2 separate regions of the Homo sapiens genome follow, and region 2 is linked to region 1. Evidence: fine-mapped expression QTL. A gene starts in region 1. The other region holds a variant in brackets. All regions are shown on one strand. Distances are between the middles of the regions.

Region 1 (5,380 bases):
CACAAGACCCTCACCTGGAAACAATCAGGAAGTCTGATCTAGGAATCAGTCTCAGCTTTGGGGTCAGCTCTTCACTTCCCGGCTGACTTTGGACAAGCCACTTAGCCACTCTAAGACTCACTTAGTTTCTTTATCAGTAGGTTAGAATAGACAAAATATCAAAATTGAAGAGAACCTTAGAGATCACCTCAATCAGTTTTTAACTTGTACCAGACTTTTCTTTGAAGCATCCCTAATAAGCTTCTCTGCTTGAATGTTTACTTTTAGTGACAGGATATGCTCTCCAGGCAACTGATGTTATTATTATTATTATTATTATTTTTGGGACAGAGTCTCACTCTGTCGCCCAGGCTGGAGTGCAGTGGTGTAATCTTGGCTCACTGCAACCTCTGCCTCCAGTGCTCAAGCAATTCTTCTGTCTCAGTCTCCTGAGTAGCTGGGATTACAGGTGCCCACCACCATGCCCAGCTAATTTTTGTATTTTTAGTAGAGACGGGGTTTCAACATGTTGGCCAGGCTGGCCTCGAACTCCTGACCTCAAGTGATCTACCCTCCTTGGCCTCCCAAAGTGCCAAAGGGATTACAGGCGTGAACCACCGTGCCCCGCCAACTGATGTTATTTTTGAAATACTCAAATTGTTAGAAAAGTTCTTCCTTACATTTTAAATTGCAATGCATCTCCTTACAGCTTTCTGCATCCTGGTGGCCTCTAAGATCATACAGGTTAGGTCTAATCCATAGGGCTACTTTTTTGAAAAGTCCTCAGCTTCCCTTGCTTTTCTTTTTTCTTTCTTTTCTTTTTCGAGACGGAGTCTCGCTCTGTCACCAGGCTGGAGTTCAGTGGCGTGATCTCAGCTCACTGCAACCTCCGCCTCCAGGATTCAAGTGATTCTCCTGCCTCAGCCTCCCAAGCAGCTGGGATTACAGGTGTGCACCACCACGCCCAGCTAATTTTTCTATTTTTGGTAGAGATGGGATTTCACTATGTTGGCCAGGATGGTCTCGATCTCTTGACCTCGTGATCTGCCCCCCCCTCAGCTTCCCAAAGTCCTGGGATTACAGCCGTGAGCCACCGCGCCCGGCACCCTTGGTTTTTCTCTTCTGCAAGCTATACCACCCCTCTCCCCTTCAGTTGCCCTCATCTGTCACATTCAAGAGGAGACACTTTTCTGGTTTTCATGTTTTTCTGAGTGTAGAGTGGTGGTTAAGCAGCCTGAACCCTCAGATAGTCTGAATTCGAATACTGGCACTGTCACTTAGTAGTTGTGTGTCATGGGCAAGTTATTTTCACCTCTGTAGCTTAAGTTTCTCTCTCTTGAAAATGAGGATAATAATAATGATACCTATCTCTTAGAGAAATTGTGAATGAGATAATTGAGACAGTACAAGTAAAACATTTAGTATAGCGCCTGGCCCTTAGTAAGCAATATGACTACTACCAGCAGTAATAATAAATAATAAGCCCTAAATTAAGCCCTAAAAATGAAAATAAGAATAAAAGAAGTGGCAGAATGAGAAAAGCTAATCTAGTCCATTCCTGACGCTACAAACAAGGTTTGGTTGCCCCGATATGAAACTTTACATGCGTTTCATAGCAACTATCACTTTCAATGGTGGGTTTAGTGTCTTGCACAGGAGCCCAATAAGGCCAGGACCTTGTCTATCGTGTTAACTGTTGTGTTCTCTGTGCCCAGAACAGTGTCTTGCTCCCAGTAGAGTGAAAGAATGGACCAACACCGTCATGTCATGGAAGCGACTGGCCGACTTGGCTAAGGTTGTGCAGGGCTCCCAGGAGAGCTGGGGCAAGAACCAAGGGCTCCTCGGCAGCCAACACTAAGAATTAAATTGAGGCCCAGCCCTACAGTTTGGTGATTCGGGCAGGAGCAAAGGTATCCAGTAATACCGGGGTCAGCATTCCCACCGGGTGGCCTAAATGCCGGCTCCTGTTTTCTGGATGACGAGCCCGCGGAGAAGGTGGCTTAATGAGAGGCCGCGGGAGGGTGGGTGCCGGCACGTCGCTAAACTCCGCCTGCAATCCTTCGGGTTGGCTGCCAGCCAGGGCACGGTTCCGAGCCGGCCGGGGCTGACTCCGGGAGCAGCGAACAGAAAACAACCTGGCTCCAGAAAGACAATTAACAAAGGCTGGAGACCAGCCACCCCCTCGCGGCGCACGCACGCAGGCAGCTGCGTGGGCATAGCCGCGCCCGCCAGCGCCCTCGGTGGGCACAGCCACCCGGAGCGGCGCGGGTGCCGGGAGCTGGGCGACGCGCCCCTCCTGCCCCGGCTGCGCTGTTGCCCGGGCGGCCGACCTCCGTGCGTGAGCGCCGGCAGGCACCTTGCGCGCGCGGGTGAGTCCGCTGGGCGTTTGGGGCCTGGTCAAGCAGGATGGGGCTGGAGAGGGGTGCAGGAAACAGCTGCTGGGAGGATCAGAAAAGGGAGGTGGGACAGAAAGGCAGGATGCGACGACCTCCCGGGTCCCAACTTGCTTGGTAGCTAGCTTTGTGTCTTGAGCCTTATGAGAATGTAAGCCACCTGGTCCATATGGCCTACCCTAGTCGTTTTACAGGTGGGAAACTGAGGCCCAGGGAGGTTAGCCGGCCTGGAAAAACATTATTATTCTTTGTTCCTGTTTCTCTCTGCCTTCTTCCGTGCAGGATTTCAGACAGCTTTTAGAAAGAATGCATACATTATAACAACGGAAAAATACAAACAATGGTAAAGAATCCTTGCCAAGCAAAATATAATTATGAATAGACAGTCAAGGCCAGGAAAAAAGAGAACAGAAATCCGTGATCCATAGGTGAGGTGACTTGGCTAAGGTCCCTCAGAAAAGTCGTGCCAAAGCTGGGACTAGAAGTCAGAACGTCCGGCTTCTGAACGCCAGAAACTTACAGTGGGGAAGCAGACAGCCTGCCCAGGCACTGGTTCTTAACCTTCTGGGGGTCCCTGACCCCTTAGAGATCTGTGTCCACTCCCAGCAGAAGGGTTCACACAAAGCCTTGTGCACAGTTTGAGATTTGACATGAATTCCTGCTGTAAGGAATGCCTGCAGGCTGCTACTCAGGCAGGGTGGTTTCAGAGCACTTTCTTTGCTCCTTTGAAGGGAGGCAGCTGGTGGAGGAGTACCTGCTGTGCGTCCAGACAGCCAGCTGTGTGATCCAGGAAGCATAGTTTAACCTTTTCAAGGCCTAGTTTTATGTGTAGACGGGGGATGAGAGTGTCTGCTTCATCCTCCAGGTTATTGTCAGACTTAAGAATGAACATAAAGGCTAGTGCTTGACATAATATATGCTCAATAAAAGTGCTGACGATTATAGGGTGACTATAGTTTACAATAATCTATTGTATATTTCAAAATAGCTAGAAGAGAATAATTTGAATGGTTCTAGCATAAAGACAAATATTTAAAGTGATGGATATCCCAAGTACACTGATTTGATCTTTATAAATATATTAAAGTATCACAGGTACCCTGAAACTATGTACATCTATTATGTACACAGTTTAAAATTTAATTTAATTAATTAAAAAAAAAAGTGATGACACACAAAATCATCAAAGCTGTGGGAATTAGGAAAGGGTGATGACCTGGAAGAAATTGGGCTGTATCTGAAATAAAATACAATTTAAAAAATTATAAACATGAAAAAATAAAGTCAGCCCTATTATGACTTACAGACCACACCACATACCTTCGTGATGGTATCCTAAATAAGGGTGCAGCAAGGTACTACCCTCAATATTTGACTCCAAGTCAAAAGCTGAAAGTAGAAACTACCAGATACTGTAACAAGGAGTGTTTACTGGGCTTCACTTGCCTCTTTCAAATGGGGTCAACACCCCGTTTTTTTGTTGTTGTTTTTTCTTTGTTTGTTTGTTTTAGACGAAGTCTCGCTGTCTCCCAGGCTGGAGTGCAATGGCACAATCTTGGTTCACTGCAACCTCCGCCTCCCGGGTTCAAGCAATTCTCCTGCCTCAGCCTCCCAAGTAGCTGGGACTACAGGCACACGCCACTATGCCCGGTTAATTTTTTGTATTTTAGTAGAGATGGGGTTTCACCGTGTTGCCCAGGCTGATTGCAAACTCCTGAGCTCAGGCAATTGCCTACCTCGGCCTCCCAAAGTGCTGGGATTACAGGCGTGAGCCACTGTGCCTGGCCTATAGAGTTTGTTTTTAAATGAGAGGAAAGAGGACATAAACTGGGACCTGAGCAGCACCCACCCTTATTCAGCAATAGAGCCTCAGCTGAATTTCTGCCAGGGAATAGGAGTTGCTGGCAGTTGGCTCACATCCCTCTTGGATCAGCAGATTACTGTGGTAAACAGTGCCTTGGCTGATTCTGCCCTAGATCAAATAAATGGCTTTTTATTTAACTAATGAGGTAGGGAATGTGTTTTCATGTGCTGTAACAGAAGCAAAATGGCATTTGTAGAGCTTGACTGTCCAAAGCCTATTGCTTGTTTATTAATAGGCTGAAGAATTTGTTTATTTGTTTGTTTATTTAGAGACAGGGTCTCCTCTGTCACCCAGGCTGAGTGCAGTGATGCAGTCACAACTCACTGCAGCCTCAACCGCCCAGGTTCAAGCAATCCTCCTGCCTCAGCCTTCTGAGTAGCTGGGACTACAGGCATATGCCACCACACCTGGCTAATTTTTTACTTTTTGTAGACACGGGGTCTTGCTATATTGCCCACGCTGGTCATGAACTCCTGGATGCCAGTGATCCTCCCACCTCAGCCTCCCAAAGTGCTGGGATTACAGGCATGAGCCACTGTGCCCAGAGAATTTTATAATTCTAATAATTGTTATTATTTTCTTAATTCCCTAATACTGGAAGGCTCAAGAACTTTAAATCTATGGATCCAAACTTGTGATGACAGAGCCTGGGCAGACTCACTTATCTATAAAAATAACTGCTTTAAAAAAAAACTGTGTTGTCTCCTTCCTCTTTTGGAAGACCTTTTTAGGCCTTCCAAATAGAACTGGGGAAATATGGCTAAGGACAAACAGCTGCTGTTTGATTTGGGTTAAGACACATACCACCTGTCCTTTCCATGTATTTATAAAGGGGAGTTTTTCCTCCAGGAAAGAGAGAGAGAATGTGTATGTCTGTCTGCGTATGGGAGAGGGGATGTCTGTTGCTGTCTTTCCGCCTCACTTCCAATCATTTATTTATCAACACAGAGAAGTCCTTTTCTGTAAGCACAGTGACTTGGAAAATTCCTTCCCTTTTTGGCTCTGTGGCTCTATTTTGTTTCACAGTAGTTTCTAAAATATTGGGATGTTTTTTCTAATTTTGACTATAAACTGTTCTTTATATGTTTCTTTTCTTTTTCTTTTTTTTTTCTCTTGAGATGGAGTCTCGCTCTGTCGCCCAGGC
Region 2 (5,380 bases), 27 kb after region 1:
GTTTCTGATTTGAAAGTATGGAACGCTTCGCAAATTTGCATGTCATTTTTGCAGAGGCGCCATGCTAATCTCTATATTGTTCCAACTTTAGCGTATATGATGCTAAAATTGAGCACCAGTGTGATCCTTTTAAGCAGAAATCAGATCATGTCACCGTTGCTCAAAGGCCTCCAGTTGCTTCCTGCAACCATCAGAATAAAACCTGAATCCCTTACTGCACTCCACTTACTTTAAGACCCTACATGATCTGGCTTCTGTTTCCTGCTTATTTCCTCTACTTTATTTTTATTTTTTAATTAATTGATTTTTTGAGACAGTCTTGCTCTGTCGCCCAGGCTGGAGTGCAGTGGTGCAATCTCAGCTCACTGCTACCTCTGCCTCCAGGGTTCAAGCAGTTCTCCTGCCTCAGCCTCCTGAGGCACCTGCCACCACTCCTGGCTAATTTTTGTATTTTTTTAGTAGAGACGGGGTTTCGCTATGTTGGCCAGGCTGGTCTCAAACTCCTGGCCTCAAGTGATCCACCCGCCTTGGCCTCCCAGAATGCTGGGATTTCAGGCATGAGCCATAGCACCCAACCTGTTTTATTTTTTGACACCATCCACCTGGAGATTTATTTCCTCTACTTTATGCCCTTGTTCACCTACTCCAGCCACACTTGCCTTCTTGCTGTTGCCCTTGTGGCCAGCACTGTCCTGCCTCAGGGCCTCTGCAGGTGTCCTTCCCTAATACTTGGTGCTGCTCTTCCCTTGCTTGTTCCCAGGACTAGTTACCTCTGCCTCTCTGGTAGACATTCACATCTTGCGAAAGGCCTTCCCCAAGTACATCCCCCACCATTTTCTAACTCTTTATTTGGCTCCGTTTTAATTCATGGCACTTATCATATGTGTATTGTCTCACGCATCCATGTGAAGAGACCACCAAACAGGATTTGTGTGAGCAACAAGGCTCTTTATTTCACCTGGGTGCAGGCGGGCTGAGTCCGAAAAAGGAGTCAGCAAAGGGTGGTGGGATTATCATTGGTTCTTACAGGTTTTGGGATAGGCGGTGGAGTTAAGAGCAATGTTTTGGGGGCAGGGGGTGGATCTCACAAAGTACATTCTCAACGGTGGGGAGAATTATAAAGAAACTTCTTTTTTTTTTTTTTTTTTTTTTTTTGAGATGGAGTCTTGCTCTGTCACCCAGGCTGGAGTGAGTGCAGTGGCACGATCTCAGCTTACTGCAAGCTCCGCCTCCTGGGTTCACGCCATTCTCCTGCCTCAGCCTCCCGAGTAGCTGGGACTACAGGTGCCCGCCACCATGCCTGGCAAATTTTTTTTGTATTTTTAGTAGAGACGGGATTTCATTGTGTTAGCCAGGATGGTCTCAATCTCCTGATCTTGTGATCCACCCATCTGGGCCTCCCACAGTGCTGGGATTACAGGCATGAGCCACCGGGCCCGGCCTAAAGAAACCTCTTAAGGATGGGGGAGATTATAAAAAACATTGATCAGTTAGGGTGGGGCAGAAACAAATCACAATGGTGGAATGTCATCAGTTAAGCTATTTTCACTTCTGTGGATCTTCAGTTGCTTCAGGCCATCTGGATGTATACGTGCAGGTCACTGGGGATATGATGGCTTAGCTTGTGCTCAGAGGCCTGACATATATAATAAATATATTACATATGTAATATGACATATATAATAAATATATTACATATGTAATATGACATATGAGGATGGCGATTAAAAATAACAAATATGCAAACAAATTTTTTTTTTTTTGAGATGGTGTCTTGCTCTGTTGTGCAGGCTGGAGTGCAGTGGCGCGATCTCAGCTCACTGCAACCTCCGCCTCCCAGGTTCAAGCAATTCTCCTCCCTCAGCCTCCCAAGAGTAGCTGGGACTACAAGGGCACACCATCACACCCGGCTAATTTTTGTATTTTTAGTAAAGGCAGGGTTTTACCATGTTAGCCAGGCTGGTCTGGAACTCCTGACCTCGTGATCCACCCGTCTTGGCCTGCAAAGTGCTGGGATTATAGGCGTGACCCACCACACCCGGCAGTAAGTACTGTTTCTATTTGCATTCCATAGATGAGAAAATAGAGAGCTAGAGGAGTGAAACACTTGCCTCAGGTTACACAACTGGGGAAGGGTTGCTGGAGATCTGTCCCTAGTTCCCTGGAATCCAAGCTCACACTGTAACCAGTTGTGTTATGCTGTAGCATGTCTTTGTAAATTGGGGATTTGTTGTGCTTGCCACACATTTTATCTTTAATTATAAAGATAAAATGAGTGGCCAGGAGTGGTGGCTCACAGCTGTAATCCCAGCACTTTGGGAGGCCGAGGTGGGTGGGTCACCTGAGGTCAGGAATTCAAGACCAGCCTGGCCAACATGGTGAAACCCCATCTCCACTAAACATACAAAAATTAGCCAGGCATGGTAGCATGAGCCTGTAATCCCAGCTACTCAGGAGGCTGAGGCAGAGAATGGCATGAACCTGGGAGGCAGAGGTTGCAGTGAGTAGAGATTGCGCCACCACACTCCAGCCTGGGGGACAAGAGCAAGACTCTATCTCAAAAGAAACAAAAAAACAAAAAAACAAGCTAATGGTTGAGTGTATTTTGTGTACTATAAAGCACTGTCCAAATGTGAGCATTATTAATATTCCTGGTATGACTATAGCTACCATTTAGTAAGTGCTCACAGTTTCCTAGCCTAAGATGTATATCATTCTGTCACTCAATCCTCAGAACAACCTTGTGAAAAGATGAAAAAAACAGAAAGTCAGGAAGATGAGGTCATTTGCCCATGGTGACATGCTGGTAAACCCAGCAATCTCACTGGAGAGCTGGAGGGGTTTACTTACTGCCTCCCTGTTCCAAGCTAGGGGACACACAGACATGCCCTTGACGACCCCTTGTTGCGTCTTCACTCTCAGGTAACATATTTCTGGAATTCCAAGAGGAGTTGGAGCAAGTCTATAAGGTCTACTGTGCCAGCTACGACCAGGCCTTGCTACTGGTGGACACGTACCGGAAGGAGCCGGAGCTGCAGCGGCACATCCAGGGCATCGTTGAGGCGGTGGT[G/A]TGAGTAGAACGGCCAGTGAGCACTCGCTCCTACCCCACTGACCCGGTTCAGGAGCAGCTATGGTCTCACCCCTTTTTCATGCCATTCGTGCTGCTTCACGAGTGTTGCTCTGTCAGAGCCTGTGTTAGTCAGGATAGGGCAGGCTGTGCCACAGAGACAAACAGCTCCCACATCTCAGTGGTTTCAAACAACAAAGGTTTATGTCTTCCTTATGCTCCACTGAAGGCTGACTTGGGGTTCTGCTCTTTGTCATCCTCACTTCGGCACCCAAACTCACAGCAGCCACTGTCTGGAATATTGCCAGTAACTGTGGCTTAAGTAAAAAGAGCTCTGGAGAGTCTAATGCTGGCAATTGAATGCTGTGGGCCAGAAATAATATTAATCACTTCTCGTAATTCATTGGCCAGGACTAATCATAGCTTCATTCAACAGCCAGGAGGCAGGGCATGCCATCCTACCACATGTCCAGGGTTGGAGAAGCGGAAACGTTTGGGAACAGTGCTCATGAGAAGCACAGGAAAGGGCAGTGAGATGGTGGGACCCATGTGTTCCCATAGTGATAAGAAGCAGGTGTGTATCACCTGAGGCTCCCTCTCTACCGGTGGCTGAAGTCCTGCCACATGGAAAAGGGAGAGTATCACCAGTCCGTGGTGGACTCATAGCTTAGAATTAGCACCAATGGGTAGAAGCCTCAGGTAGAAAAATGTAGAGAATATGTATTCGAATTTAAATTTTCGAATGGGTAACGTGATTATAAGATTAAAAAACTTTAAAACATCAAAATTTTTACAGTAAAAAATATCTGGCTGGCTGTATTTTTTACAGTAAAAAATATCTACAGTGCTGGGACAACAGGCGTGAGCCACCATGCCAGGCCTAAAGTCTCCTTTTCAAGAACCCGTGTCCTAGCCCCTCTCTGCTCCCAAAAAAACTGTATTCATTTTCCCTTTTTATTCATCCTTCATGGGTCTTACAAACAGGCTTCTGCAAGAGTCACAAAATATATTTCTACAGTTTACAGATATAAAGGGAAGCAAGGTGCCAGAGATGAGATAAAAGGGAGAAGTGGAGGCTGCGCACACTAGAGACAACAGACCCTGTGTAGCGTGCAGCTGCAGGACAGCCTTAGCTAATTGCTGCTATCAAGTGGCTTTTGCTAGATAACAAATCACCCCCAAAATGTAGTGGCTTGAAACAAACATTTATTTAGCTCATACTTCTGCATATTAGCAATTTAGGTGTACTCAGTAAATGTTCTCCTGGAATCATTAGCACCCTCAAATATCTGCAGTCACCTGCAGGTCAGCTTTGCTGATCCTGGCTGGGTTTTTTCATGTATCTGGGACACATGAGCTGCCTCACCTGTGGTCCTATGGTCTCTCCTCTTCCCGCCTGCTAGCTTATTCACATCATGGTCTCATGGTTCTAAGGGCTGTGGGGAGGGCTTGGCATCTAGAGGTCTTAGCTGGGAACTGGCACATTGTCATTCAAATGAAGTCCTAAGGCCAGCCCATACTCAAGGGGTGGGGAAATAAACTGCATTTCTTGGTAGCAGGAGCTTCATAGTGACAAAGGCTTGTAGAGATTGGGGGAGGAATAATAGCAGTGATGTTTTTGCAAACCATCTGCCTCAGCTGCCATGTAGAAATGAGGGTCTGTTGTGGCCAGAGCCTCTGCTTTTTTAAGAGACGCCAGAAACTTAGATGTAACATCTCTCAAGAGTTCAGTGCTGGCATCTAGCTCAGACATTTAATAAACACTGTGTGTGGGAGCCCTAGTTTGCTCAGAGGCTGCTGTTTATTACATCCTCTGCACTTTGGTCTTTCCTAGCCAGGCCAGCTGGGCTTTGCTCATGGGCTCTGTAGCCGAGCTCCATGGTGGTGGATGTGGCTTGGCCCCTGGCCATGAGAGAGCCATCTTATGTCTCAGGATCTAGTTTCCTTATGTGTAAGGTGGGAGGAATAACAGCCCCGCATGGGGCATTGATTCATTGCACACGAGTGACACTCAATGAATCTCACGTATTATAGTTATCTCGGCTAGGCAGGGATTCTATTTTCTCTGAGACCACACTGTAGTTCTCAATTTTATCAGTGCCATGCTCCCTTGTTATAACAAATATTACATACATTTACTATCCTAAGACATATCCTGAAATATATGTATAAATAAATATATCTCTTCTACCTATATATGTAACTGAAAAAAATCAGTATAATGGCTTCACTAAGAAAGGAGAAATAAAAGGAAAATAATTTCCAATAAAATGCTATATAGTTTAGTGTGCATATGCTTGGACACCACTACTA

The links. PIP is the estimated chance that this variant, and not a neighbour inherited with it, causes the effect.
Region 2: its variant is fine-mapped to the expression of ARHGEF37 in whole blood (INTERVAL, PIP 0.97).

What each region holds. Positions count from the first base shown.
Region 1 is chr5:149,579,277-149,584,656 of GRCh38, forward strand. ARHGEF37 (Rho guanine nucleotide exchange factor 37) reads left to right here and starts at 2,222. Exons shown (of 13, transcript NM_001001669.3): 1 at 2,222-2,348. RefSeq lists enhancers at 1,883-2,012, 4,230-4,399 and a silencer at 2,093-2,272.
Region 2 is chr5:149,606,626-149,612,005 of GRCh38, forward strand. ARHGEF37 (Rho guanine nucleotide exchange factor 37) reads left to right here. Exons shown (of 13, transcript NM_001001669.3): 4 at 2,923-3,070. It also overlaps the pseudogene RNU6-588P. Among named protein-coding and RNA genes, the nearest start is that of ARHGEF37, 28 kb to the left of the region's middle. RefSeq lists an enhancer at 4,701-4,995. The variant G/A (reference allele first, on the strand shown) is at 3,071.